Linked DNA regions of Homo sapiens. The protein of the gene in region 1 purifies or fractionates together with the protein of each later gene. This does not show direct contact. Each region holds a gene or a part of one and is shown in the gene's direction. Other genes may lie near its edges.

The links.
Region 2: the proteins of SLC8B1 (region 1) and TPR purify together in Homo sapiens (affinity purification with mass spectrometry; one large-scale study listed by BioGRID and IntAct). This does not show direct contact.
Region 3: the proteins of SLC8B1 (region 1) and MAP4 purify together in Homo sapiens (affinity purification with mass spectrometry; one large-scale study listed by BioGRID and IntAct). This does not show direct contact.
Region 4: the proteins of SLC8B1 (region 1) and UBAP2L purify together in Homo sapiens (affinity purification with mass spectrometry; one large-scale study listed by BioGRID and IntAct). This does not show direct contact.
Region 5: the proteins of SLC8B1 (region 1) and CSTF3 purify together in Homo sapiens (affinity purification with mass spectrometry; one large-scale study listed by BioGRID and IntAct). This does not show direct contact.
Region 6: the proteins of SLC8B1 (region 1) and MAP1B purify together in Homo sapiens (affinity purification with mass spectrometry; one large-scale study listed by BioGRID and IntAct). This does not show direct contact.
Region 7: the proteins of SLC8B1 (region 1) and EIF4H purify together in Homo sapiens (affinity purification with mass spectrometry; one large-scale study listed by BioGRID and IntAct). This does not show direct contact.

What each region holds. Positions count from the first base shown.
Region 1 is NC_000012.12:113,307,356-113,311,421, reverse strand, and holds part of SLC8B1 (mitochondrial sodium/calcium exchanger protein isoform 1 precursor), read left to right. Parts: intron 1-1,066; coding exon 1,067-1,188; intron 1,189-3,577; coding exon 3,578-3,731; intron 3,732-4,066. UniProt on the Homo sapiens protein: Mitochondrial sodium/calcium antiporter that mediates sodium-dependent calcium efflux from mitochondrion, by mediating the exchange of 3 sodium ions per 1 calcium ion.
Region 2 is NC_000001.11:186,364,875-186,368,940, reverse strand, and holds part of TPR (nucleoprotein TPR), read left to right. Parts: intron 1-958; coding exon 959-1,055; intron 1,056-4,066.
Region 3 is NC_000003.12:48,009,672-48,013,737, reverse strand, and holds part of MAP4 (microtubule-associated protein 4), read left to right. Parts: intron 1-220; exon of another isoform or gene 221-263; intron 264-4,066. UniProt on the Homo sapiens protein: Non-neuronal microtubule-associated protein. Promotes microtubule assembly.
Region 4 is NC_000001.11:154,223,782-154,227,847, forward strand, and holds part of UBAP2L (ubiquitin-associated protein 2-like), read left to right. Parts: intron 1-1,302; 5' UTR 1,303-1,342; coding exon 1,343-1,432; intron 1,433-3,500; coding exon 3,501-3,578; intron 3,579-4,066. UniProt on the Homo sapiens protein: Recruits the ubiquitination machinery to RNA polymerase II for polyubiquitination, removal and degradation, when the transcription-coupled nucleotide excision repair (TC-NER) machinery fails to resolve DNA damage.
Region 5 is NC_000011.10:33,095,366-33,099,431, reverse strand, and holds part of CSTF3 (cleavage stimulation factor subunit 3), read left to right. Parts: intron 1-281; coding exon 282-398; intron 399-667; coding exon 668-742; intron 743-2,453; coding exon 2,454-2,597; intron 2,598-3,023; coding exon 3,024-3,126; intron 3,127-4,066. UniProt on the Homo sapiens protein: One of the multiple factors required for polyadenylation and 3'-end cleavage of mammalian pre-mRNAs.
Region 6 is NC_000005.10:72,194,277-72,198,342, forward strand, and holds part of MAP1B (microtubule-associated protein 1B), read left to right. Parts: coding exon 1-4,066. UniProt on the Homo sapiens protein: Facilitates tyrosination of alpha-tubulin in neuronal microtubules. Phosphorylated MAP1B is required for proper microtubule dynamics and plays a role in the cytoskeletal changes that accompany neuronal differentiation and neurite extension.
Region 7 is NC_000007.14:74,176,951-74,181,016, forward strand, and holds part of EIF4H (eukaryotic translation initiation factor 4H), read left to right. Parts: intron 1-4,066. UniProt on the Homo sapiens protein: Stimulates the RNA helicase activity of EIF4A in the translation initiation complex. Binds weakly mRNA.

The sequences.
Region 1 (4,066 bases):
CTGGAGTGCAGTGGTGCGATCTCAGCTCACTGCAACCTCCACCTCCTGAGTTCAAGTGATTCTCCTGCCTTAGCCTCCTGAGTAGCTGGGACTACAGGTGTGTGCCACCACCCCCGGCTAATTTTTATATTTTTAGTAGAGACGGGGTTTCGCCCCTTGGCCAGGTTTGTCCCGAACTCCAGACCTCAGGTGATCCACCCGCCTCAGCTTCCCCAAGTGCTGGGATTACAGGTGTGAGCCACCGTGCCCGGCCTAATTTTTGTATTTTTTGTAGAGATGGGGTTGCACCATGTTGCCCAGGCTGGTTTCGAACTCCTGGGCTCAAGCGATCTGCACGCTGTGGCCTCCCAAAGTGCCGGCATTATAGGCATGAGTCACCACACCCGGCCTCCTCACATAATTCTTAAGCCCCCTGTCATTTGGGAGCCATGAGCTAGACTAAAAAAAGAACAAAAGAAGGGTCTTGATGCAGGTATATGAACATTTGAACTATTCATCGTCTTTAAGACCAGTACCAACTCCTAGTGGTGAAAAGGGTGATGTGTGGAGAATTCTAGAGTGTTCTCACCTTAGGGTGTCTCCCTTTGGTGTTTAATATGAAGCCTCTGGAACCTTCATATTTGTTAATGGAGAGTGGACTTATTTGGGTACCTCTCAGTGAAGAGGCTGGGTTTGACTGTCAGGTTCATCTCATGGAGCGATGCCATCTACTGGTAATGCCTGGCTGGAGGGAGCTGCCTGGAAATGCAGTTGGATGGAAGTATTGTGCTTGATTAGTGATGTCTGCCATGAAGGTGGAAGAGGGTGGTGGTGTTAGTGGTTATAGCCATTCCTATCCTAGTTCCACAGCAACAGGCTGGAGAGAGTCTTTTTTGTGTGTCTCTCTTTTTCTTTCAAATGTGACTAACTTGAGGGCAGGGGCTGCATTTTAAATTTTTCTGCCCCCATGAAGTGTCTAGGACAGGGCTGGGCAGATAGGAAGTGTCTACCTGACATCCAAATAGTCCATTGTAAGTGGGTGTTGAGGTGCTGGGAAGGTATCAGCTCCCTTTCTCTCCCTTTGCAGATGGTGTCTATGAGATAGGCGGCCTCGTTCCCGTCTGGGTCGTGGTGGTGATCGCAGGCACAGCCTTGGCTTCAGTGACCTTTTTTGCCACATCTGACAGCCAGCCCCCCAGGCTTCACTGGGTAAGAAGCCCGGGTTCTCCGAGATGGGGGGGGAGGGATGCTGATGTCTCCCACACAGATGTCCTGTCTGCATCTCTGAGGCACTTTGACCAGTTTGATCAGGAGTCACACAAAGACAGGTAACCGAACTTTAAAGCTGCTTTTGAGAGTGTTTGTATCTATACAGGGTTTTTTTCTTTTTTTTTTTGGTAATAGCTTAATTTTGTTGAGATGTAATTCACATACCATACAATTTACCCATTTAAAGTATACAATTTAATGTTTTTTATTATAGTTACAGAGTTGTGGAATCATCACAATCAATTTTAGAGAATTTCATCACCCCAAAAAGAGACCTCATGCCCATAAGTCACTCCCCATTTCCCCACCCCCCACATAGCCCCTGGCAACCACGACTCTACTCCGCGTCTCTATGGGTTTGCCTATCATGGACATTTTATATAAATAGAATCCTACAATATGTGATTTCCTTTTTTTTGAGACAGGGTCTCCCTCTGCTGTCCAGGCTAGAGTGCAGTGGTACAGTCATAGCTCACTGCAGCCTCGACCTCCTGGGCTGAAGCCATCCTCCCACCTCAGCCCCCCAAGTAGATGGGACTACAGGCGCAAGCCACCACGCCCAGCTAATTTTTGTATGTTTTTTGTAAAGATGAGGTCTCACTATGTTGCCCAGACTACTCTCAAACTCCTGGCCTCAAGCAATCCTCCTGCCTCGGCTTCCCAAAGTGCCAGGATTCCAGGCATGAGGCACTGTGCCCAGCCTTGGGTTTCTAAAGACACTCCAGGGATAGAATGGGATGGCCTTTGTGGGTGTCTTTTTCCATTTTCCCTAGTCTAGGCACTCTAAAGAATATTTAGGGGTTTGTCCAGAGACTTTTTCCTTAAAAGTTTACTTAAATTAGCTGGGCGTGGTGGCGGGCACCTGTAATCTCAGCTACTCGGGAGGCTGAGGCTGGAGAATTGCTTGAACCCAGGAGGCAGAGGTTGCAGTGAGATGAGATCGCATCATGGCACTTCAGCCTGGGTGACAGAGACTCCGTTTCAAAAAAAAAAAAAAGTTTACTTAATATTTTCATTTTGGCTGGGCGTGGTGGCTCACGCCTGTAATCCCAACACTTTGAGAGGCCGAGACGGGTGGATCACCTGAGGTCAGGAGTTTGAGACCAGTCTGGCCAACATGTCGAAACCCTGTCTCTACTAAAAAATACAAAAATTAGCCAGGCATGGTGGCGGGCACCTGTAATCCCAGCTCCTTGGGTGGCTGAGGCAGGAGAATCGCTTGAACCCAGGAGGCAGAGGTTGCAGTGTGCTGAGATCGCGCCACTGCATTCCAGCCTGGGCAACAGAGTGAGACATCGTCCTAAAAAAAAAGTTTACTTAAAATTTTCATTGTTTAGTGCTTAATGATTTTTTAAAATTTTAGTTTTTACTTTTGGAAACTCAATGAATGTACCAACCGAAGGGTGTTGAATTTTCAGCAAATGGATCATTTAGGGAAGTTGCCTTTTACTACTTAGGGAAAATTGTCTTTCACTGTTTTTTCAAGTACCGACGTGTGCCACAACATGGATCACCCTTGAAAACATGATGCTGAGTGAGAGAAGACTGTAGCAGAGGATCACACACTGTGGCATTCCATTGATGTGAAATGTCCACGAGGCACATTCAGAGAGACAGAGAGCAGAGTAGTGGTCGAGTTGGGCTGGTGGGGTGGGGCTAGGGAGTGACCGCTAATGAGTACAGGGATACTTATTGGGATGATGGGTGGTATTTGGTTCATAGACTGGAAATCTGATGAAAGTGATAAGGAACCCTTTCCAGACAAAATAATATTTTTTTTTAGTATATGAAAGGGAGGTTTTTTTGTTTTTATTTTTTTTCTTTTTTCGAGACAGAGTCTCACTCAGTCGCCCAGGCTAGAGTACACTGGCATGATCTAGGCTCACTGCAACTTCTGCCTCCCGGGTTCAAGCGATTCTCCCACCTCAGCCTCTCGAGTAGCTGGGATTACAGGTGTGTGACACCAGCCTGACTAATTTTTGTATTTTTAGTAGAGACAAGGTTTCACCATGTTGGCCAAGTTGGTCTCGAACTCCTGACCTCAGGTGATCTGCCCGCCTCGGCCTCCCAAAGTGCTGCGATTACAGGCGGTGAGCCACCGTGCCCGGCCTGAAAGGGAGTTTATTAAGGAAAAAAGAAAATAATATTGAACTCACGTTTTATTGAGCACTAACTTTGCACAGGCACCAATGCATATAGTAACGTGTTTTATACTCATAATAAGCTCATGAGGTAGATACTGTTATCATCCCGTTTCACAGGTGAGGAACTGAGGCTGTGTTCCTGTTGGGGCTGGCCTTGGTCCCACAGCAAACCATTCCCTCCGCAGCTCTTTGCTTTCCTGGGCTTTCTGACCAGCGCCCTGTGGATCAACGCGGCCGCCACAGAGGTGGTGAACATCTTGCGGTCCCTGGGTGTGGTCTTCCGGCTGAGCAACACTGTGCTGGGGCTCACGCTGCTGGCCTGGGGGAACAGCATTGGAGGTGACTCAGGGCTGGGTGGGGTTGAGTGGGGGTGAGTGCGGCCACATCTTAGCTCTTTCCTCCCCCAGCCAGAGTCGCATCTGGGCAGGAGTGTCCAGGGTGTCTGCCCTCTGCACCTGTGCAGTGTCCCCTGTCACTGTGGAGTGGCCAGCATTGGGGTGAGATGGCCCTGACTGCAGTTGGACCAAGAAACTCTATAGAGGCCCCTGCCTCTTCCCCACCCTCTGATGCGGGGATGGTCGGTGGCTCCCAGAGTTCAGGCAGGACATGGAGCCCATTGCAGCCGGCCGTGCTTGATGTGTACACGGGTGTGTGACATGCAGGCATTCACACTT
Region 2 (4,066 bases), on another chromosome or scaffold:
TGTTGCTTACATCATATACCGAAATCAAGCCAAGATGGATGAAAGATCTAAATGTAAGACCTGAAGCCATAAAACTCAGAGAAGTGAACATAGGGGAAAGGTTCTTGACATTGGCCTTGGTAATGATTGTTTGGATCACATCAGTAGTTCAAGCTGCAAAAAGAAATAAACGGAACTACATCAAACTAAAAAGCTTCTACACAGGAAACAAGAATATTAAAAGGCAACCTACAGTTCTGACATAGGTAGCTTGAGATAGATATTTCTAACTCAAAAACATGTAGATTGCCATTGTTTTGCTGGGAAGCAGTTTGACAAGTTTTTTGTTTTTGAGACAGGGTCTCACTCTGTCACTCAGGCTAGAGTGCAGTGATGCAGTCTTGGCTCACTGCAACCTCTGCCTCCCGGGCTCAAATGATCATCCCACCTCAGCTTCCTGAGTAGGTGGGACCGCAGGCATGTGCCACCATGTCTGGCTGTTTTTTTCTACTTGTAGAGACTGGGTTTCGCTGTGTTGCCCAAGCTGGTCTTGAACTCCTAGACTCAAATGATCGGCCCAGCTTGATTTCCCAAAGTGCTGTGATTACAGGCATGAGCCACTGCACCTGGCTGACAAAATATATTAAAAGTTTTAAGTAATTCAATTTTTAGGAATCTTTCTTGAAAAATAATTTGAACTAAGGTGTAAATACAGTGATATTCTAAGTTATTAGGACATTTCCATGTGATTAAAAGAGATATGAGAAAAATTTTCATAAGCCTAGTAAAAATGTTTTAAAAATCCAAAATTTAAATAGAAACATTGGAATTACGGGTATTTTTTAACTTTGATGTGTAAGTTATAAGAGAAAGCCAGTCATTTACACTACAGCTGATGTTAACTAAAGTGACAATTCTATGTTCGCTTTCCTGTATTGCTCTACTTGATTTTCTTACTTATTACTTCTTTATATGACAGAGCCAATTTACAAGAACAAAGGAAGAATTAGAAGCTGAGAAAAGAGACTTAATTAGAACCAATGAGAGACTATCTCAAGAACTTGAATACTTAACAGGTATGAAGAAGTGCTTGTAGCTTTTAGCTCCATTCCTTTATTTTTCTTCTGTTAGTGCTAGGAGTTAGTGCTCAGCCCATTTCTGTTGCTGATATTTTTTTGTTATGGTTGAGTATAGAGTTGTCATATCCTATTATTTCTCCTACTCATTTATCTTTAAATCATTGTCAAGTGTTTAAAGAAGTGTCTAGAAAGTGCACAAGTGAAGAACATCTCAAAGAAGTAGTAATTTGGACCAGATTTTACATGCAAAGATTTTCACTACAATGCTGTACATAATGTCAAATTGGAAGCACTTTAAATATTTGCAAAGGCTGAACTACTGTTCTTTATTTCATATGGACATCCTTGCTATATAATAAGCATTCAATATAAGAACATATACTCAGCCTATATTTATAAACAGACTGAAGGAGGCAGAGACATAAAATACATAAACATAGACTGTAGTATATAATACAGCTGATGTAGTCAGGTGAACTTGACTCTGAAGCAGTTAATGGTAAGAAGTTTCCTTTGGTGCCCAGGCACGGTGGCTGACGCCTGTAATCCCAGCACTTTGGGAGGCTGAGGTGGGTGGATCATGAGGTCAGGAGTCCAAGAGCAGCCTGGCCAAGATGGTGAAACCCCGTCTCTACTAAAAATAACAGAAATTAGCCAGTCATGGTGGCACGCACCTGTAATCCCAGCTACTTTGTAGGCTGAGGCAGAGAATTGCTTAAACCCAGGAGCCGGAGGTTGTAGTGAGCCAAGATTGCGTCACTGCACTCCAGCCTGGGCGACAGAGCTAGACTCCGTATCAAAAAAAAAAAAAAAAAAAAAAAAGGTGTTTTGGGTTCTTTTTTTTTTAATGGTTTTTGAAATTTTTTTATTTCTATAAAAGAAAGGATTTTCAGATATTTATATCATTATACAATAATATTCCATTAGTTAAGTATACTTTCCCAGTCTCACAAGAGTTCCTTCAAAATACTTGAGTGTGTTGATCAACAAGTGGTAGTTACAACTAAACGAATTCATAAAATCTAGATATTTAATAGATAGTTTTTTAAAAATGTGTATTCCATATTGAGTAGGTTTTTATATTAGTGCTTTTTAGCTTAATGATTATTTATAAAATTTTAATAGGTCTTTGGATATATATCAGGAAAATTAAGGTTAACGTTGAATATTTAGCTTAACACACTGTATTTAAAATAAATTTGGATAATTCACAAGTTTGGATACACAAATTTCAATTTTTTGTCATATATTTGTAGAAATTGAATTTGTAATTAACTATGGCAGAAACAAGTTAAAATAAGAGAGTTGAGAACTACAGTTGACCCTTAAACAACACAGTGGTTAGGGTTGCTGATTCCCCCCACAGTTGAAAATTTATGTGTAACTTTTGACTCCCCAAAAACTTAACTACTGCTGTTAACTAGAAGCCCTACCAATAACATACACAGTAGATTGTCATACGTTTTGTCTGTGATCTGTATTATATACTGTGCTCCTTCAATAAAGTAAGCTAGAGAAAAAAATGTTAAGAAAATCATAAGGAAGAGAAAATACGTTTACTGTACATTAAATGGAAGTGGATCATCACAACCATCTTCATCCTCCTTGTCTTTACATTACCTAGGCTGAAGAAAAGGGGTTGGTCTTGCTGGGTCAGGTTGCAGAGGTAGAAGGGGAGGCAGAAGAGGGAGGCACACTCAATGTAACTTTACGAAATACAGCCTAATTTCTGTCTGACTTGCTTTTTCATTTCTCTAAAAATGTTTCTATACATTACCAATCTTCCTTCCACCGTTTGCTATAGTTTCAGTGCCCATGTAAGAGAAGGATCCATGTCATAAAAGAAATCAAAAGCAGTCTTGGGTAATCAGAACCCTTCCACCAGATAGTCTGTTACCAATATGTTTTCTGACACTGCTAGTTCTACATTCTTTTTCCACATCGTCTGGCACTGGTTTGGAAGCACTCATCTCCATCCAGTCATCTTCTGTTAATTTATCTGATATGGTGGCTATTAGCTCTTGGATTTCTCCAAGGTCCGTATCTTGAAACCCTTCATCCCACTTTTTTTGCCATATCCACAATCTCTTTCATGATTTCTTTGATTGGCTCTGTTACAAATTTTGTGACATCATGCACAACATCTGGAGAGTTTCCTCCAACAGGAATTTATTATTTCAGCCTTGATGGCTTTCATAACTTTTTCTGTAATGAAAAAGAAGGGATGGCCTCTTCAGTGTGTTATCCTTTAAAACTTTCATGATATTTTCTCTGTTGGGGTTCTCTTCCACAGTGTTGACATTTTCTTTTCACAAAGTATCATCTCTATTGAGCCGTAAAGGTCCTTATGACTCCTGATCTAAAGGCTGAATTAGAAACATGTTTGGGAGCAAGTAGACTGCTTTGACACCTTCCATGTTGAACTCCTGGGTTCTGGGTGGCCAGGGACAGTGTCTAAAGTCAAAAGAACTTTAAAGGCAGCCCCTTGGCCAGGTACGGTGGCTCATGCCTATAATCCCAGCACTTTGGGAGGCCGAGGCAGGTAGATCACCTGAGGTCAGGAGTTCGAGACTAGCCTGGTCAACATGGCAGAACCCCATCTCTACTAAAAATACAAAAATTAGCTGGGCGTGGTGGTAGGCGCCTGTAATCCCAGCTACTCAGGAGGCTGAGTCATGAGAATCACATGAACCAGGGAGGCAGAGGTTGCAGTGAGCCAAGATAATGCCACTACACTCCAGCTAGGGGGATAGAGCGAGACTGTCTCCAAAAAAAAAAAAGGGCAGCCCCTTTACTAGCAAGGTACTTTCTGACTTTAGGGACAAAGCATGAGTGGAACCAATTCAGAGAAGGGGGTCTGTCATTGTCCAGGTCTTCTTCTTGTGTAACCAGAAGACAGGCAGCTGGTGTTTATCTTTTTCCTTTGGGCCCTGGGGTTAAAAGCTTTATAAATAAGGGCAGTCCTTATCATAAACCTGACTGCATTTGCTCAGTACGGTAGAGTTAGC
Region 3 (4,066 bases), on another chromosome or scaffold:
TTGCCAAAAAGCTTTTTTTTTTTTTTTTAATAAACCTCAACCCAATTATAAATGAGAATACTTGATATATGAAATAATATGAAATGATAGTTGTTCATATTCACACTGAGGGTCTTAGGGGGTTTATTTATAGCTAACTGAAATGATGCAGCTGAATTACAAGTAGCTGATAGAATAATCAACCTCAGTAAACATTTAACATAACACTCTCATTTTACAGATTAGAGAACTCAGCCCTGAAAGGTGACTCATTCAAGGCCACAGTGAGTGTCAGATTAAACTGGTGCTTCAGTAAAGCATACAGACTTCTGTACCCAGCTTTCAAATTCTCTTGACTCTTACTCACAAATCTATTTAAAGTTAACTTTATTATCTGTATGGATAGAAGAGGAATAGTATAAATGGTCAATTGGTCAGTGAGAGGTTTTTTTTTTAGAGTAAATGCTTCTCATTCACAAGGGTTCATTTTTTGATCCTCCTGAACATCCAGATTTGAAAATAATAGTGTCATATCCTTTTATCCATAAAATATGTAACTAAGCATTTAAGGCATAACCGAATAGTAAGTAACTTCAAGTGATTCTGTGTGAGATGAAATTCATACATGAATTTATTAAAATTAATTTTGGAATACTTGAACCAGTTTAACATCTATAGAGCATTTAAAGAGTGTATTGTACTTATACATGTTTCAGAATAAAATAACTATAAAATTGGATAATCGCTTTAATTTATTGAAAACTGGGGATTTCTGGGAAAAAAAAAACAACAGTACTTTAACTTGAAAGATGACACTAGCATTACCTTTCTAGGATCATTTTCCATAAGGGGGTGTGTGTGTGTATTTTAAAATCATATTCTATTTATGTGGTGACAAGTAAAGAATAGCTTAACTGTTGATGAAATACAGATGCTAAGTGGCTAGCTAGATGTGCTCATAGCTTCATGACCTTCCCACTTTCCAATTGTATAATTTTCTATCAGTTTTACCCTCTTAGGCTGAATTTCAGCTACTGTTCATATTCCATGAACCACATGCAGCCCAGGAAGTCATCTGAGAGTGTGTGGCTGGGGGCGGGGTGGGGGTGCTGAGGGTTGGATAGGGGAAAGATTACAATGGATAAAAGCTGCCCTTTGATAATCTGCATTCTGATAAATGATATTTAAAATGTATTGGTGTTTTTGACTGTATTTTTACCCTGTGCCTTAAATGAGGAAAAGATTTGAGTAGATTGCATCTTATGTCATTATGTATTTCTGGGGAAAATTAAATTTTGGATTTTTATGGTATGTTGTTAAGGATGGCACAGATGTCCTTTTAAGTTCTCTTTGACCATGAAACTGATGCAGGATTTTTGCTCCTTAGCTCAACTAGGTCCAGGTTCTTATCTCAGGAGCGGAAGAATTAGGCACGTGGACATCAAAGAGTGAGTGGAGTAGAATCTATTAATCGAAAGGAAAGCTCTTAGCAAAAAGAGAGAACATGGTAGGTGGTTCTACTACCTGAAGACAGGAAAGTTCCGTAATATGGCTGAGCCTGGGGCTCTTTATTGGTTCAGAATGGGAGTGTGTGGTCATTGGTTTGTGAGTATGCAAAAAAGGTCAAAGCGAAGACACCACTCCAAGGTGGGCAGGACAGTGTAGAAAACCAATTAGGAAAGGGTAGGTACAGGTTAAATAGGTGAAGGATGGGGATCAATCATGCCAAACGGGAAGGCAGGTTCTTAATCCGATCTCAGGATTTACCCAGGACAGTTTCCGGATTAAAGTTCGGGTTTCACTGAGGACCCGCCCCTGTCTGCCTAGACATTTGTTTGCCTCTTGCCTCTATCAAAACTAGTTACAGACGTCCTTTTTAGTTTTTGGTTCATAACAGCTCCCAAAGGATAACTACTAATAATAGTTGTCAGAGATAGAATAGGGAAATGGCATAACCGAATAGTAAAAGCAACTGAATAGTTGCTTTTCATGGAACCCTTTGACATTATAATCTGTTAGGCTTTTAAAAGCTCTTTAATGAACTCATTTCTCAGCATTTTCCCTGTCATGATCTGGAGTTACAATAATACTTTATATGTAAAGTAGGCTGGACGAGCATAGAATAGGGCTTCCCACCCACATTCGTCTGTTGTAAATGGGTCACAGGTGTGCCACTACTACTATAGGAACTTTTTTTTTTTTTTTTGAGACGGAGTCTTGCTCTGTTACGTAGGCTGGAGTGCAGTGGCGTGATCTTGGCTCACTGCAGCCTCCACCTCCTGGGTTCAAGCAATTTTCCTGCCTCAGCCTCCTGAGTAGCTGGGATTACAGGTGCATACCATCTAAATAATAAAAATCAGTGCCCAGCTAGTTATTCTGTTTTTGTATTTTTAGTAGAGATAGGGTTTTACTGTGTTGGCCAGGCTGGTCTCAATCTCCTGGCTTCAAGTGATCCACCCGCCTTGGCCTCCCAAAGTGCTGGGAGATTACAGGCTGGGATTACCAAGTCCAGTTCCTACTATAGGAACCATTGAATTCCTATTTATGGTTCCTTCAGAAAAGCTGCTAAATCCTGAATTCGGCAGTGGTTATTCAAATAGTGGAATTTATAATTCCAGTAGTGTGAGATGGCATTTGCTGTGGACAACAGCTCTGTCATGCCACAGGAGCCCCTTTGGCAGCAAAGCTATCAGTTTTTGTCACGAGCCCCACACTACTTGTTTTAGTCAGGATTCTCTTAGAGGGACAGAACTAATAGGATATATCTCCAAAGGAGAGTTTATTAAGTATTGATTTACGTGATCACAAGGTCCCACAGTAGGCTGTCTGCAAGCTGAGAAGCAAGGAGAGCCAATCCGAGTCCCCAAAATGAAGAACTTGGAGTCCGATGTTCGAGGGCAGGAAGCATCCAGCACGGGAGAAAGATATAGGCTGGGAGGCTAGGCCCATCTCTTCATGTTTTTCTTCCTGCTCTATATTCGCTGGTGGCTGATTAGATGGTGCCCACCCAGTTAAGGGTGGGTCTGCCTTCCCCAGCCCACTGACTCAAATGTTAATCTCCTTTGGCAACACCCTCACAGATACACCCAGGATCAATATTGCATCCTTCAGTCCAATCAAGTTGACAGTATTAACATTACAAGTCCACTCCTTGTCAACTTGAACCCATATACATCTGAGATCGTATGTAATCTTAAAATAAAGACAATAATAAGGTCATAATTACACCTAATGTAATAAAACTATCCTTCATACAACCAGAAACACACCAATCCCCAACCCAAATACTATTACATAAAGTTAATAATACTTAAATGCTGTTATGAAATCAATAAATCTTATGTCACATGATAAAGGAAAAGGAAATATAAAGTGAAGATATTAGTACATGTGTATACATACACAAACATGTTTTTAACAAATGAAGGAGGAAATACTCATGGCAGTTACAGTCCTCATTTCTGCAGCTGGTCACGTGGTCATAGCTGGTATTGATGACTACCTTCTTCTACCCATTCTGTATTAACTTTGCCTTCCCCAAATACCTCAGCAGGTCATGGGTTTTTTTCCTGGTGGAGTGATCCAAACCTTCATTCCTGAATGGTCCGGATCATTTGTAGTCCTGCCTGGATTTGGCTGTTGTGGTTTTGCATTGACAGTAATCACAGGGCATGGTAATACGAAGAGATGCCCTAATGGGTCTCATGTATTCCATGCATACTCTTCCTTACTTCCGTTGTGAAGTTGTAGACTGATTTCATCTTGATAGTCTGGGTCAGTCACCTTAGCCAACACTGTAACTCCCCCTCTGAGCCTGTTGACTTAAAGGGAGGAGGAGCCCAAAGTGTCCAGGTGACAATCTTAACTTCCAGTTTAATGGAATCATTGTTGTGTCTCCTGGTGGCAGCATTCTTCCCTCTGGAATTAAGACCTCTAGGCCAGCAGAACATAATGTTGCAGGAGAGGAAGCAAAAATTTTGCTAGTGGATCACTAGGGGTGATGGTGAGTGGTGCCACTTCCAGTTCCACCCCTCGATTCCTGGACCTGTGAATCCTGGCTATGGGAGAAACAGTACCTTATATTGGA
Region 4 (4,066 bases), on another chromosome or scaffold:
TCCAAGAAAGTCAGATGAAATTCACTTCCCTAATAGTTAATCCTTGCATATTTCTTTAGAAGTCCTTCCTCCCACTCAAATCCAGTAATATCTCTGGGCAGTCTAGAATTACGTTGTATAAGGTTTCATTAACAAGAAAAATTAAATATAGAGCAGAAAAGTATAAACTTACCCTCTTTGGAAGGGAATAAATGCAGAGTAACCTATTATTTTGAACACTCTATCATATGATTAATGTTTTCTTTTTTACTAAATGCAGCAGCTGAGATTGTATTATAAAACAAAGTATGAACTAAAGGAACTTGAATTCAGTAGAATCCTTCCTTGTTAGAAGTCTTGTAACAAAAACTATATTCTGGTTTGGGGAAGGCCCTGTGTGTTCTGTGTCTCTTTAAAGACTCAACTAAGTCATCTTGCCAGCATTAAGGTCTCAAGTTTAAAATGATTTCTTAGAAGCACTTTCTTCCAAATAAAACTTTGTGCTAGATGCTTTTGGTTTGAGACAAATTTGAGATTCCCTGTATATTAAGGTGAGTGGTGGAGGGTAATTGCCATTTTGGTTTCTTGAAAATGTGGACTAGGAGACCAAGAGAAGCACCTGTAAAAGCAGTGTGTTGGAATTATTTTCCAGAGAACAGAGATTCTGGACAAAGTCATTGGGGCTAATACGTACCCTGTTGAAGGCTGTGGTTTAAAAAAACAAAAAACCCCCACAAACACAAAACAAACCCATAGCATACTGAGAGAGATGAAACTTGAGGGACAAAGAAGAGTCTAGACTTGAACTTGTCCTTTCCCAAGCAATGGAGGTCACATGCAGCTTACATAAAAAAGGTTGTAAGGCAGGTAAGGCTGTTTTCTTAGGTGATTGAATACAGTATTTAAAATTATTTCTCTGGAGTGTAGACTAATCTCCTTCCTGGAAGGTTTTTGTTTCCAGACTTTACTGATTATCTTTCCTTCTGTCAAAGGTACTTCAGATACTTGCATCTATGTAAAAGGCTTTTGATTATTAGTTAAATGTAAAGTCTGCTTATGGGGGACTAGTAACCAAACTGCTGTAACTTCTTAAAAAAATCCATCACTTACACATGCTTTATACATTTCTTGTTACATAAAAATGGATTAACAGCCATAGCTCCTTAAGGAATTTATCAAGCTAATTATGTTGTAAGAATAAATGAATCTTATTGATTTGTTCCTTTGAAGAAGTGAAAGTGTTTGGTGGTGAAGGTGCTGATGAGAGAGTTAAAAACATATTTTGCCCACATTTAATACCTAATTTTCTTTTAAATCTTTCAGTATTCTACCTTGTAAATACTGTTATTTGTATATACTGTAAATGATGACATCGGTGGGCACTAACCGAGCCCGGGGAAACTGGGAACAACCTCAAAACCAAAACCAGACACAGCACAAGCAGCGGCCACAGGTAAATAATCCAAGGCATACGGATTCATGGATAGCGTTGCCTGCTGATACTGGTTTCCATGCAGTACAGCATCATTCTGTGCTTTGAACTGTTGGTTTAGGTTCCTTATTTTTGTTTTCTAGTCCTTGGCTCTTTTTTTACTTAGGTCCTGATAACTGTTCATGACATGCTGTAAGGCAAGATGCTTACTTTTTTGTTGTTTAATACTGTATTATGAGGCTTAGCACTTTATTATGGGTCCTGTGCTTTTTATCTTTTTTTTTTTTGTTTTGTTTTAAGATAGGAGCTCCCTTTGCCTAGGTCAAAGTGCAGTGGCACAGTCACCATTCATTTGTAGCCTCAACCTCTGGGGCTTAAGTGATCCTCCCGCCTCAGCCTCCTGAGTAGCTGGGACTACCAGTGCACACTACCATGCCAGGCTAATTTTAAAATTCTTGTAGAGATGGTAGTCTTGCTGCATTGCCCAGGCTGGTCTTGAACTCATGGGATTATAGGTGTGAGTCACTGCCCGGCTCTATAACTCTTAAGATAGCATTTCCCTTCTCTTACCTGGGCCATTTTAGCAATACCTTTCTATTTCTTAGACCTTCCACCTTGATATCTCTCTCTTTTGTTTTTGAGACGGAGTCTCGCTCTGTTGCCCAGGCTTGAGTGCAATGGCGCCACTTCGGCTCACTGCAACCTCTGCCTTCCAGGTTCAAGCAATTCTCCTGCCTCAGCTTTCTGAGTAGCTGGGATTACAGGAGTGTGCTACCATGCCCAGCTAATTTTTGTATTTTTAGTAGAGACAGGGTTTCACCGTGTTGGTCAGGCTGGTCTCGAACTCCTGCCCTCAGGTGATCCACCTGCCTCGGCCTCCCAGAGTACTGGGATTATAGGCATGAGCCGCTGTGCCCTGCCCCACCTTGATACCTCTCTAGCAAGCCTTTTCCATTCCAGATTTTATCCTTTGCTCCTCTTTTCCCCAACTTGTCTTTTATTTTCCTCTCTGGTTCCATTGAGACCTTACCTGATTATTCCTTTCCCATGAGGAGCTGGCAACTTCACTATGTTTCTTCAAAATTAAATGAAACACCTTAGAGCATTGCTCAATTTTAAGTTTTAAAGAGTAAATTAACCTCTTGGATATTAACTTTGATGTAGATATATTCTGTTTCTCATACCAGGTTGATGTTAGTTGGTATGTAATGTGAATGAATTACTTATATTTGATTATGGTCAGATAAATCGAATATGTAAGATTAGGACATCCCCCTTACGCATTTTTCTTTCATCTGTGTTTTCAAGTGGATTTCTAGTAGAATTATAATACTTAGTTGGGGCAGTAAAATTCCTAGTATCTGAACATACACTGGATATATAGAAGATGTGTTGAGTCTATTGTCAGACTTGTATTCTAAGCTCTAGGAATAAGAGGATGGCGTTGGTTATTACAGAAATAAGAATAGAGTTTACACATGGCTTTGTGACTTAATATGAATTAAGGGGCAGATGTTTCAGAGCGGTTCTGTGATTCTAAGACGGAAGTCCCTTTAACTGTGAAGATTGGTGAATGAGTTCCTTACTCTTTCTGTAACAGTTTCACTCAATTTTTTGTCATTTTACTGATTTAAGCATCTTTTTTTTTGAGGTGGAGTCTTGCTCTATCACTTAGGCTGGAGTGCAGTGCCACTATCTCAGTTCACTGCAACCTCCTCCTCCCAGATTCAAGCAATTCTCCTGCCTCAGCCTCCCGAGTAGCTGGACCTACAGGTGTGCACCACCACACCCGGCTAATTTTTGTATTTTTAGTAGAGACGGGGTTTTGCCATGTTGGCCAGGCTGGTCTCAAACTACTCACATCAGGTGATCTGTCTGCCTTGGGCTCCCAAAGTGTGGAATTACAGGCGTGAGCCACCACCCGCACCTATCCCTGATCCCCCATTAAGCGTCCTAAATGGTGCTTTATTACTTGCTCATTTGTTACAAGGAAAAGAAAATTGGGGCAGTGGAGGCTGACGAAATAGGTTCCTGTTCTCTAAACTGTTGCCTCATGATTATGCTTTCTTGATCTCATCTCAATTCCTAGGCCACTGCAGAACAAATTAGACTTGCACAGATGATTTCGGACCATAATGATGCTGACTTTGAGGAGAAGGTGAAACAAGTGAGTGTATCACTAATTTACTGTACACTATGAGAAAAGATACCAGTATTAAGGCATAATCAAATACTGTAGATGGATGCCAGGATACTTTCTACTATAGGTATTGAAAGAATTTTGACCTGAAATATAATAGGTCAGGCCAATAAATAAGTGCTTTCATTCTCTAATTTTTTGTAGCCCTTTGTTTTGTTTTTTGTTTTTTTTTCAGATGAAGTCTCACTCTGTCACCCAGGCTGGAGTGCAGTGGCATGATCTTGGCTCATTGCAGCTTCTGCCTCCCGAGTTCAAGCGATTCTCGTGCTTCAGCCTCCCGAGTAGTTGGGATTACAGGCGCTCACCACCATGCCTGGCTAATTTTTTGTATTTTTAGTAAAGATGGGGTTTCACCATGTTGGCCAGGCTGGTCTCGAACTCCTGACCTCAAGTGATCTGCCTGCCTCAGCCTCCCAAAGTGCTGGGATTACAGGTGTGAGCCACTGCACCCAGCC
Region 5 (4,066 bases), on another chromosome or scaffold:
ACTGGCAGTTTTTTAACGTATCAAAGTAATGAATCATTTAGAGTACTTGCATGGTTATTTTGTAAGTTAAAATAATGAAAGGAGTTTTTGGAATTTTTTTAGAATCCAGAAATGCATATGTGTTTATGTATGTGTGTGTGTGGATACATATATATGTGTGTACATACATGTATGCTTTCTTAGACACATAAATAAAATAAAGTAGATGTAACTTTATTAATTTTATTCTCTCACAACTATATTAAAATTATTGAAGATGAGCTTTCTTTTTTTTCTACCAGGATATGAATAATGCCAAATTATTTAGTGATGAAGCTGCTAATATATATGAAAGAGCCATAAGCACTTTATTGAAGAAGAATATGCTTCTTTATTTTGCATATGCAGATTATGAAGAGGTAAGTAAAAATGTTTAGAGCCTTCTTATAATTCAATTTTTTAGTGCAGGACTGAACTTTTTTTCTGGCTGCTTGTTTGCCAGGCATATTGCTTTTGGTAGACAGAGATGATGCCAAATGAACAGTTATTAGTTGTCAGCTTATACTATATTTATGCTCAATGGAGATGCCATTGGGGGTGGGAGGTTATAGCCTTTGGATTCCTTGGAGCTCAAATCCTGCTTATTTATGACCATATGTTGATACTCACTTCTTCTGTACCACCTTAGAGTCGCATGAAGTATGAAAAGGTTCACAGTATATATAACAGACTTCTGGCAATTGAGGATATTGACCCTACCTTGGTGAGTAACTTTACAAATCTTTTTTTCCACCTTTACAGTCTTATCTAACAAAAAATAATTTAAATTTATATACAATAAAATTCACTGTTTTTGTTGTATAGTTCTATTAATCTTGACAAATAACATTGAGTATGGGATCCCCACCACAATTAAGATAGAAAACACCTCCACCATCCTCCAAAAATTCCCCCATGTGACCCCTTTGTAGATATAACCCTTCCCTCTGCCCTTACCTCTGACAATTACTGATCTGTTTTCTGCTAGAATTTTTTCTTTTTAATGCAGCAGTATAAAATAGATACAGAGGCACTTTCTCTAACACTTTCTTTGTGATCATGGTTTGAAGTCACTTTATGCCACAGAATTGTTGCTTAATAGATATTTCTTTTTAAATGAGGCGGGAGAAACCGACATCCTGGGAAGAAATTAGACTGAAACTCACTTTATGCTAAATCCTGCTCTATCATAGTGGTTTTCAAAGCCCCAAGTGCAAAAGTGCAGTGATGCTCTCCCATTGGGAGAGGAAGGGGACAGGCTTGTGGGTGTGTCTCTAGAACCTCTGCCTCAAGTCAATTATAGCTACACTACTTTTTCTTGTTAATGATTTATATTGGGATTCCACTGCTATAATTCCTACATTTATTCATCATCTTATAATTCATTCCACAAACATATCTGGCAAATATATTGCTAGAGTCTATGCATTGTGCTAGACTCCAGCAACATTAATGACAAACTAGATGAAATTCCTTTTCTTGAGGAACTCATAGTCCATCCATCCATCCATCAAAACTGGGTAATATAGCTAGACATTATCAATACTGGGCAAACCAGGACCCTACTAATTAGTCATTTGTTCACTAAACAAAACTGCATACTCATGATGTACTGGACACTCTGTAGGTGCTAGGTATAAAATGGCTCATAGTTTATCCATGAAGTTCTATTATATGTTGTTCGGAAAATAGAGTAGTGGGCTTTTAAAAAGAAACCAAGAAAATGTGAAGTTAAACATGTATTGCAGGCTGGGCGCGGTAGCTCACACCTGTAATCCCAGCACTTTGGGAGGTCGAGGCAGGCAGATCACGAGGTCAGGAGATTGAGACCAGCCTGGCTAAAATGGTGAAACCCCATCTCTACTAAAAAACAAAAATTAGCCGGGTGTGGTGGCGTGTGCCTGTAGTCCCAGCTACTTGGGAGCCTGAGGCAGGAGAATGGCTTGACCCCAGGAGACAGAGGTTGCAGTGAGCCAAGATCGCACCACTGCACTCCAGCCTGGGCAACAGAGCGAGACTCCGTCTCAAAAAAAAAAACATGTATTGTAAGACGTGCTTGTATTAAACCAACCCTTGAGTTTTTTAGATATTGACATTCATTAATGGAGTATGTTCTAGTAGTGTCACACTTTTCACTCTTAAACTTTAATTTACATATTCTAGAATTAGATAATGGTGATGATTGCACAACCTTGTGAATATATTTAAAACCACTGAATTGTAAAGGGTGAATTTTGTGCTATGTGAATTATGTCTCAATAAAAAAATAAATTAATTTGCATGCATCTCTAATACCAGAAAAAAATTAGTTTGTGGATTTAAATAGAATATTATCTAAATTCCTACTTTCTAATTTATTGGGTATTGAGGATTGCTTTCTTATGCAGGAAACATACTGTCTAATTTATAGAACACAAATACTTTCTTTTGCATAGGTATATATCCAATATATGAAATTTGCACGGAGAGCAGAAGGCATCAAATCTGGAAGAATGATATTTAAAAAAGCAAGAGAAGATACCAGAACCCGCCACCATGTCTATGTTACTGCAGCACTCATGGAATATTACTGTAGTAAGGTAAATACTGAAATACAAGTGTAAAGATAAAACAACTTCCTTCATCTGAGGTTCGTAAAAGAAAGGTGATTTTAGCTTCTGTCATTAAGCTTTTATTGCTCCATTTTGTAAAGGCAGTCTAAGTGTATCTGTGTAAAATTTTATGGAGCATCATCCAAATCCCCAACTACTTGCTAATTTATGCTTCATTAATCACTATATTTCTAATTTGTGCTTTATTAATCACTATATTAATCACTATTTCGTGATTTCTAATCACTAAACTCCTTTGAATAGTTTCTAGCTCAGCAATTTTTACTTAACATGATTTTAATTTGTTTTAATTCTTACATATTTTGTCATATGTAGGTATAATTTTAATATTCTTTCAAGTGTTTTTTATCTGACATTTCATGGAAATCTGTACTTTACTTTCTTTACTTGTAGGACAAATCTGTTGCCTTTAAGATTTTTGAGCTGGGGCTAAAAAAATATGGAGACATTCCAGAGTATGTCCTGGCCTATATTGACTATCTTTCTCACCTCAATGGTAGGTTGATTCTAGAATCTATAATGATTACTTAATATTAAACCATGTGGAATTATGTTGCTAGATTTCTTCCTTCTTGAATGTATTATAATTTTGACATAGCAGACAGGCACTTGTTAGGCACTCAAGAAATACTTGTGGTATATCAACCATGAATATATTTACTGAGCAATGGTAGATGTTTTTTGACTCTGCAGAACTGTCTTTATTCAGTAAAGTACCATCAGTAGTGGGATAAAGCTTCAGAGTCAGAGTCAGGAGACACAGAGTTGTTTATATTCATCTCTGATGACTCTGGGCAGATCATCTCCTGTTTCCTGGAAGGAAAACAAACAAACAAAAAACCCTCTAGCCACCAAAACTCAAACTCAAAAGATGCCCAAATAGTAAAGTAAAACACTTTGAGGATACTGGGGAAAAGATTCAAAAAGAAACATTTTGGTTTTTAGTATTTATTTATTTATTTATTTATTTATTTATTTATTTGAGACAGAGTCTCGCTGTCGCCCAGGCTGGAGTGCAGTGGCGCAATCTCGGCTCACTGCAGGCTCCGCCCCCTGGGGTTCACGCCATTCTCCTGCCTCAGCCTCCGGAGTAGCTGGGACTACAGGCGCCCGCCACCTCGCCCGGCTAATTTTTTGTATTTTTAGTAGAGACAGGGTTTCACCGTGTTAGCCAGGATGGTCTCGATCTCCTGACCTCGTGATCCGCCCGCCTCGGCCTCCCAAAGTGCTGGGATTACAGGCGTGAGCCACCGCGCCCGGCCGGTTTTTAGTATTTATTTCCCTATTCTGTTGTACGAATAACACTGGCCATCCTTTATTGAGTTCCTACCAGGCACTGTGCTAGATAATTCATATATGTATATCATTTAGTCTAGTTAACAACAGTGCACAATATGTAATTTCTTAACAAAAAAAGATGTAGTATAAAAGTTGGT
Region 6 (4,066 bases), on another chromosome or scaffold:
CTGCTCACCCACATTGGGGATGACAATTTGCCTGGAATAAACAGCATGTTACAGCGGAAAATTGCAGAGCTCGAGGAAGAACAGTCCCAGGGCTCCACCACAAATAGTGACTGGATGAAAAACCTCATCTCCCCTGACTTAGGAGTTGTATTTCTCAATGTACCTGAAAATCTCAAAAATCCAGAGCCAAACATCAAGATGAAGAGAAGCATAGAAGAAGCCTGCTTCACTCTCCAGTACCTAAACAAATTGTCCATGAAACCAGAACCTCTGTTTAGAAGTGTAGGCAATACTATTGATCCTGTCATTCTTTTCCAAAAAATGGGAGTAGGTAAACTTGAGATGTATGTGCTTAATCCAGTCAAGAGCAGCAAGGAAATGCAGTATTTTATGCAGCAGTGGACTGGTACCAACAAAGACAAGGCTGAATTCATTCTGCCTAATGGTCAAGAAGTAGATCTCCCGATTTCCTACTTAACTTCAGTCTCATCTTTGATTGTGTGGCATCCAGCAAACCCTGCGGAGAAAATCATCCGAGTCCTGTTTCCTGGGAACAGCACCCAGTACAACATCCTGGAAGGGTTGGAAAAGCTCAAACATCTAGACTTTCTGAAGCAGCCACTGGCCACCCAAAAGGATCTCACTGGCCAGGTGCCCACTCCTGTGGTGAAACAAACAAAACTGAAACAGAGGGCTGATAGCCGAGAAAGTCTGAAGCCAGCCGCAAAACCACTTCCTAGCAAATCCGTGCGCAAGGAGTCAAAAGAAGAAACCCCTGAGGTCACAAAAGTGAATCACGTGGAAAAGCCACCCAAAGTTGAAAGCAAAGAAAAGGTAATGGTGAAAAAAGACAAGCCAATAAAAACAGAGACCAAACCTTCAGTGACTGAAAAGGAGGTTCCCAGCAAAGAAGAGCCATCTCCAGTGAAAGCCGAGGTGGCTGAGAAGCAAGCCACAGATGTCAAACCCAAAGCTGCCAAGGAGAAGACGGTGAAAAAGGAAACAAAGGTAAAGCCTGAAGACAAGAAAGAGGAGAAAGAAAAGCCAAAGAAAGAAGTGGCTAAAAAGGAGGACAAAACACCTATCAAGAAGGAGGAAAAACCAAAAAAGGAAGAGGTGAAAAAAGAAGTCAAAAAAGAGATCAAGAAAGAAGAGAAAAAAGAACCCAAGAAAGAGGTTAAGAAAGAAACACCGCCAAAGGAAGTCAAGAAGGAAGTTAAGAAGGAAGAGAAGAAGGAAGTGAAAAAGGAAGAAAAGGAACCCAAAAAAGAAATTAAGAAGCTCCCTAAAGACGCAAAGAAATCATCTACTCCTCTGTCTGAAGCAAAAAAACCAGCTGCTTTAAAACCAAAAGTACCCAAGAAGGAAGAGTCTGTCAAGAAAGATTCTGTTGCTGCCGGAAAGCCAAAGGAGAAGGGGAAAATAAAAGTCATTAAGAAGGAAGGCAAGGCCGCAGAGGCTGTCGCTGCAGCTGTCGGCACTGGAGCCACCACAGCAGCTGTCATGGCGGCAGCTGGAATAGCAGCCATTGGCCCTGCCAAAGAACTCGAAGCTGAGAGGTCCCTTATGTCATCTCCTGAGGATCTAACCAAGGACTTTGAAGAGTTAAAGGCTGAAGAGGTCGATGTAACAAAGGACATCAAGCCTCAGCTGGAGCTAATCGAAGACGAAGAGAAACTGAAGGAAACTGAGCCAGTCGAAGCCTACGTCATCCAGAAGGAGAGAGAAGTCACCAAAGGTCCTGCCGAGTCCCCTGATGAGGGAATCACTACCACTGAAGGGGAGGGCGAATGTGAACAGACACCTGAGGAGCTGGAGCCCGTCGAGAAGCAGGGAGTAGACGACATTGAAAAATTTGAAGATGAAGGAGCCGGTTTTGAAGAATCTTCAGAGACTGGAGACTATGAAGAGAAGGCAGAAACTGAGGAGGCTGAGGAGCCAGAAGAGGATGGGGAGGAACACGTATGTGTGAGCGCCTCCAAGCACAGCCCCACTGAGGATGAGGAAAGTGCCAAGGCGGAGGCTGATGCATACATCAGGGAGAAGAGGGAGTCTGTGGCCAGTGGGGATGACCGAGCCGAAGAAGACATGGATGAGGCCATTGAGAAAGGAGAGGCTGAACAATCTGAAGAGGAGGCTGATGAGGAGGACAAAGCTGAAGATGCCAGAGAGGAGGAATATGAGCCGGAAAAAATGGAAGCTGAAGACTATGTGATGGCTGTGGTCGACAAGGCTGCAGAGGCTGGTGGTGCCGAGGAGCAGTATGGATTCCTCACCACACCAACCAAGCAACTAGGAGCCCAGTCTCCTGGCCGAGAACCTGCATCTTCAATTCATGATGAGACTTTACCTGGAGGCTCAGAGAGCGAGGCCACCGCTTCTGATGAGGAGAATCGAGAAGACCAGCCTGAGGAATTCACTGCCACCTCTGGCTACACTCAGTCTACTATTGAGATATCCAGTGAGCCCACCCCCATGGATGAGATGTCTACCCCTCGAGACGTGATGAGTGATGAGACCAACAATGAAGAGACGGAGTCCCCTTCTCAGGAATTCGTAAATATCACCAAATATGAATCTTCATTGTATTCTCAGGAATACTCTAAACCTGCTGATGTTACACCGCTCAACGGATTTTCTGAAGGATCAAAAACAGATGCCACTGATGGCAAGGATTACAATGCTTCAGCCTCTACCATATCACCACCCTCTTCCATGGAGGAAGACAAATTCAGCAGATCTGCTTTACGTGATGCTTACTGCTCTGAAGTGAAAGCCAGCACCACTTTGGACATCAAAGATAGCATCTCAGCTGTTTCAAGTGAAAAGGTCAGCCCATCGAAGAGCCCGTCCCTGAGTCCATCTCCACCATCACCCTTAGAAAAGACCCCCCTGGGTGAACGTAGTGTGAACTTCTCTCTGACGCCCAATGAGATTAAAGTCTCTGCAGAGGCAGAAGTAGCCCCGGTGTCTCCTGAGGTGACCCAAGAAGTAGTTGAAGAACATTGTGCTAGTCCTGAGGACAAGACTCTGGAAGTGGTGTCACCATCTCAGTCCGTGACTGGCAGTGCTGGTCACACACCTTACTATCAATCTCCTACTGACGAGAAATCCAGTCATCTCCCTACAGAAGTCATTGAAAAACCACCAGCAGTTCCAGTGAGTTTTGAATTCAGTGATGCCAAAGATGAGAATGAAAGGGCTTCAGTAAGCCCCATGGATGAGCCCGTGCCTGACTCAGAGTCTCCTATTGAAAAAGTTTTGTCTCCTTTACGCAGCCCGCCCCTCATTGGATCCGAGTCTGCTTATGAAAGTTTTCTAAGTGCTGATGACAAGGCTTCTGGCAGAGGTGCCGAAAGTCCTTTTGAAGAAAAGAGTGGAAAACAAGGCTCTCCAGACCAAGTAAGTCCAGTTTCTGAAATGACTTCTACTAGTCTTTACCAAGACAAACAGGAAGGGAAAAGCACAGACTTTGCACCAATAAAAGAAGACTTTGGCCAAGAAAAGAAAACTGATGATGTTGAAGCCATGAGTTCTCAACCAGCACTGGCTCTGGATGAAAGGAAATTAGGAGATGTTTCTCCCACACAAATAGATGTCAGTCAGTTTGGATCTTTTAAAGAAGACACTAAGATGTCCATTTCTGAAGGTACTGTCTCAGACAAGTCAGCTACTCCTGTTGATGAGGGCGTAGCAGAAGACACGTACTCTCATATGGAGGGTGTGGCCTCAGTGTCCACAGCCTCAGTGGCTACGAGCTCATTTCCAGAGCCAACAACAGATGATGTGTCTCCATCTCTGCATGCTGAGGTTGGCTCCCCACATTCCACAGAAGTAGATGACTCCCTTTCAGTGTCTGTTGTGCAAACACCTACCACATTCCAGGAAACAGAAATGTCTCCATCTAAAGAAGAATGCCCAAGACCGATGTCAATTTCTCCACCAGATTTCTCCCCTAAAACTGCAAAGTCCAGGACACCCGTTCAAGATCACAGATCTGAACAGTCCTCAATGTCTATTGAATTTGGCCAAGAATCTCCTGAGCAATCCCTTGCTATGGACTTCA
Region 7 (4,066 bases), on another chromosome or scaffold:
TATTTCTAATTGCAACAAAGCTATGAGTGCTTAGTGGAAAACCACCGATCCTGAGAATTAGGGTGGAAATTGGAGGTGGCAAGAATTGAGGTGGCTGAAATGGTGCCATCTAAAAACTGGCAAAACTCCAAATTTATTCTTTATCAGGATTCAGTTAGGGAGTTTAGAATTCTTTTTTAAATAGAGATGGGTTTCACTATGTTGCCCAGGCTGGTCTTGAACTCTTGGACTCAAGTGATCCTCCCGCCTCAGCCTCCCAAAGTGTTGGGATTACAGGCATGAGCTACCACGCCCAGCCTAGGAGTTTAGAATTCTAACCTTTGAATCTTTAAACTTAGCATGTCTGTCTAAATTTCTGAGCATATTTTTATCCAAAATTTTTATGGTGGTAAAATATACATAACATAAAATGTGCCACTTTACCCATTTTTCAGTATACATTTCAGGGATATTGAGTGTATTCGTAATGTATAACCATCACCACTATCCAGCTCCTTAACTCTTACAGCTTGTAAAACTAAAACCCTGTCCCCTTTGAATAGTAATTCCCTATTGCCCTCCTTCCCCCAGGTCCCTGGCAACCACCATTCTACTTCCTGTCTCTGAGCATATTTTAAGATTTGTATGTAATAGGAAGGAAAGCAGTGTATAAAAACTACAGCTAGTTTTCACTGATGCTAGGGCCTGTAAAGCTATTGAAAAGCTTATTTTAAAATGCTGTTTACATGTCAAATGTCAAGTCGTTTAGGTTTGTTATCCTTCTTCACTCCAAGTGTTCCATTGCTTAGTTCCAAACCATTATCCTCTATGAAAAGTGTTACCAGAAATATTTGGATTTGCTAAGAGGTCTCTGCATGACGGTTCATGTAAAAGCCCTGGCTTTGGAATAAGGCAGACCAGAGTTTCATCAGTTCAGCCATGTGTTAGTTGTGTGATCTGAAGTAAGTTTCTTCACCTCTCTGAGCCTCGTTTTCCCCACATATGAGTTAGAAACATGTATTTATTTATGAAATAGGCTCTCCTTCTGTCACCCAGGCTGGAGTGCAGTGGCAGGATCATAGCTCAGTGCAGCCTCGACTTCCCAGGCTCAAGCCATCCTCCCACCTCAGCCTCCCAAGTAGCTGGGATTACAGGGTGCGCCACCATGCCCAGCTAATTTTTGTATTTTTTTGTAGAGACAGAGTGTCTCTATGTTGCCCAGGCTAGTCTCAAACCCCTGGGCTCAAGGGATCTTCCTGCCTCAGCCTCCCAAGGCTCATTGTGTGAGCCACAGTACCCAGCCTTCAATTTATGTTTCTATTAGAAATTAAGCTTTGTGGCTGGGTGCAGTGGTTCATGCCTGTTATCCCAGCACTTTGGAAGGCCGAAGCAGGCGGATCACTTGTGGCCAGAAGTTTGAGACCACCCTGACCAACGTGGCAAAACCCCATGTCTACTAAAAATACAAAACGGGTGTGGCGGCACATACCTGTAATCCTAGCTACTTGGGAGGCTGAGGCAGGAGAATTGCTTGAACCAGGGAGGCGGAGGTTGCATTGAGCTGAGATCATGCCACTGCACTCCTCCAGCCTGGGCGACAGAGAGAGACTGTCTCCAAAAAAAAAAAAAGAAAAATTAAGCTTAGTGTTCTGGAAAGACTTCACAATTTTAAGGAGTCTCCCTGGAAGCTTAGAACGTACAAAGCAGACTCTGAATGTCTTTCCAGGATCACACTCTGGCTTCCAGCTTCCCCTGGAAGGTTCAGGAGAGTATTTGTCGCCTGGTTGCTTTTACATCATGCTGATTAGACCTGCACACCCGGGCATGAAATGAGTGTGATTGCATCATTTTCATAGAACCTAATGGCAGCTGTATGTACGTCTAAGACTTCTTTTGTGTAAGTCGAATGTTCTTCGAAGTTTCCCCACGTCATGATTTATGTGATTTTCCGTCTTGATCAGGACCTTCTGAAGGAGCTCAAGTATGTGGCTGCTCCACGGTTGATGAGTCTCTGGTTAAGCATGGCCTTCCAGTTCAGGGCTAGGGGGGCCGTCACCTCCCTTTGTTCTGCACATTCTTCTCCTGTCTTTCATGTATACTCACATTTTTGGAGCCTTCTGTGTACTCACATTTTTGGAGCCTTCTAAATGTCTGGCTTAATAGAACACAGCTGGATTCTCATACCTGCATCTGTCTCCACTCTTGGAATGTGTTGCTTTGGTTGACTTTTATGGAGCAGCTCAATCCTTGCACAGATAAATAGTTGGAAATGGGAGGAGTAATCAAATAATTCTGGATATTCATATTTGATTCTATACCAAAACTCAATAAGCAGTAGTTTCTATGAAGGTTAGTTGCAATGTGAAACCTAAAACCTTATCAATAAACTCTTCATACTTTTACATTAGAGTTCATCATTTGGCTGGGCGCGGTGGCTCACTCCTGTAACCCCAGGACTTTGGGAGGCCAAGGCGGGCGGATTACCTGAGGTCAGTAGTCTGAGACCAGCCTGGCTAACATGGCAAAGCCCCATCTCTACTAAAAACACAAAAACTAGCTGGGCATGGTGGTGGGCCCCTGTAGTCCCAGCTACTTGGGAGGCTGAAGCCATAGAATCACTTGAACCTGGGAGGTGGAGTTTGCAGTGAGCCCAGATTGCGCCACTGCACTCCCGCCTGGGCGACAGGGTGAGACTCTGTATCAAAAAAAAAAAAAAAAAGTCACTTTATCTTGTACTCCGACTGGATCCTTTACCAGTGCATACATTTGTAAGGTGTTGGTGATTTGGAAAGGACCTGTTCACTGAGCCAGGCAGAGCCATGCAGATGTTCCAGATGTTGGTACATTTTGTTATACAGTATCAAAGTCACATTCACCATAGCTGTTAGAAAAGTCTCTGAGTATTGAAAGACTGTCAGGCTTATGTTGATGGATACAGGTTTTCCGAAACTCTTTTTTGCTTGAAAGCTTAAATTTTACCATTGGCAACAAATACTGTTATTTTGGCCAGGTGCTGTGGCTCATGTCTGTAATCCCAACACTTTGGGAGGCCATGGCAGGAGGATCACTCTAGCCCAGTCTGGACAATATGTCCAGACCTGGTCTTTTCAAAAATAAAATTAGCTGGTGTGGTGGTATATGCCTATAGTCCCACCTACTTGGGAGGCTGAGGCTAGAGGATCACTTGAGTCCTGGAGATTGAGGCTGCAGTGAGCAGTGATTGCACCACAGCACTCAAATCTGGGCAACAGAGCAAGACCCTGTCTCAAAACAAAAAACCCAAATACTGTTCTTTTACTTCAAGGAACAGACTTAACTTCATTTTTAAAAAACTTAGTACCCATGTCTGAATTAACCATAGTTTGTTCTATAGAAAGAACAGCTAGTTCAGCTTGTAGCTCAAGTGCTTTTCCTGCAGCAGCCATCATGCTTGTGTATGCAGCAGAAGTGCTTTGCGTGTTTCATAACATAGGGTACTAAAAAGTGGGTCACGATTCATTTTTACTGCTTTACCAAGGATATTCCTAATTGAAGCTGTGATTTTTCTTCCTATTTTAAATACTTCAAGTGCATGGTGGGAAAGCATGAGTAATGTAGTTTGATGCCCCTGCCTTCGTTTGTATTAACACAAAGACCTGTTGTGAGATCAGTATAGGTCTTTGCTTTATAAATGTGGAATATTGTGAACCATTCTGGGAACCATATTTTAAGGCATCAGCACACTGGAGCCTATGAAGAAGAAGGTGATAGTGGGGATGGCCAGGCTCTGAAACTTCATCTTAGGAGGAAGGGCTGAGCAGCTTCAGTGAGGACCTTCGAAAGAAGCCTCAGCAGCAGTGATACAGCAGCTCTTAAGTCTCTGGGACTGCTGAGTGGAAGAAAGGTGTGGCCCTCCAGGCCAGAATAGGACCAAAGGATTACATCTTGGCCTTCTTCAGAGACTGCACAAATGTAAAGAACTGCTGCTTGAGCTAAATAATTGTTTTTTTAATAGAGACAGGGTCTCCCTTTGTTGCCTAAGCTGGTCTTGAACTAGCCTCAAGGGATACTCCTGCCTTGACCTCCTAAAGTGCTGGGATTGCAAGCA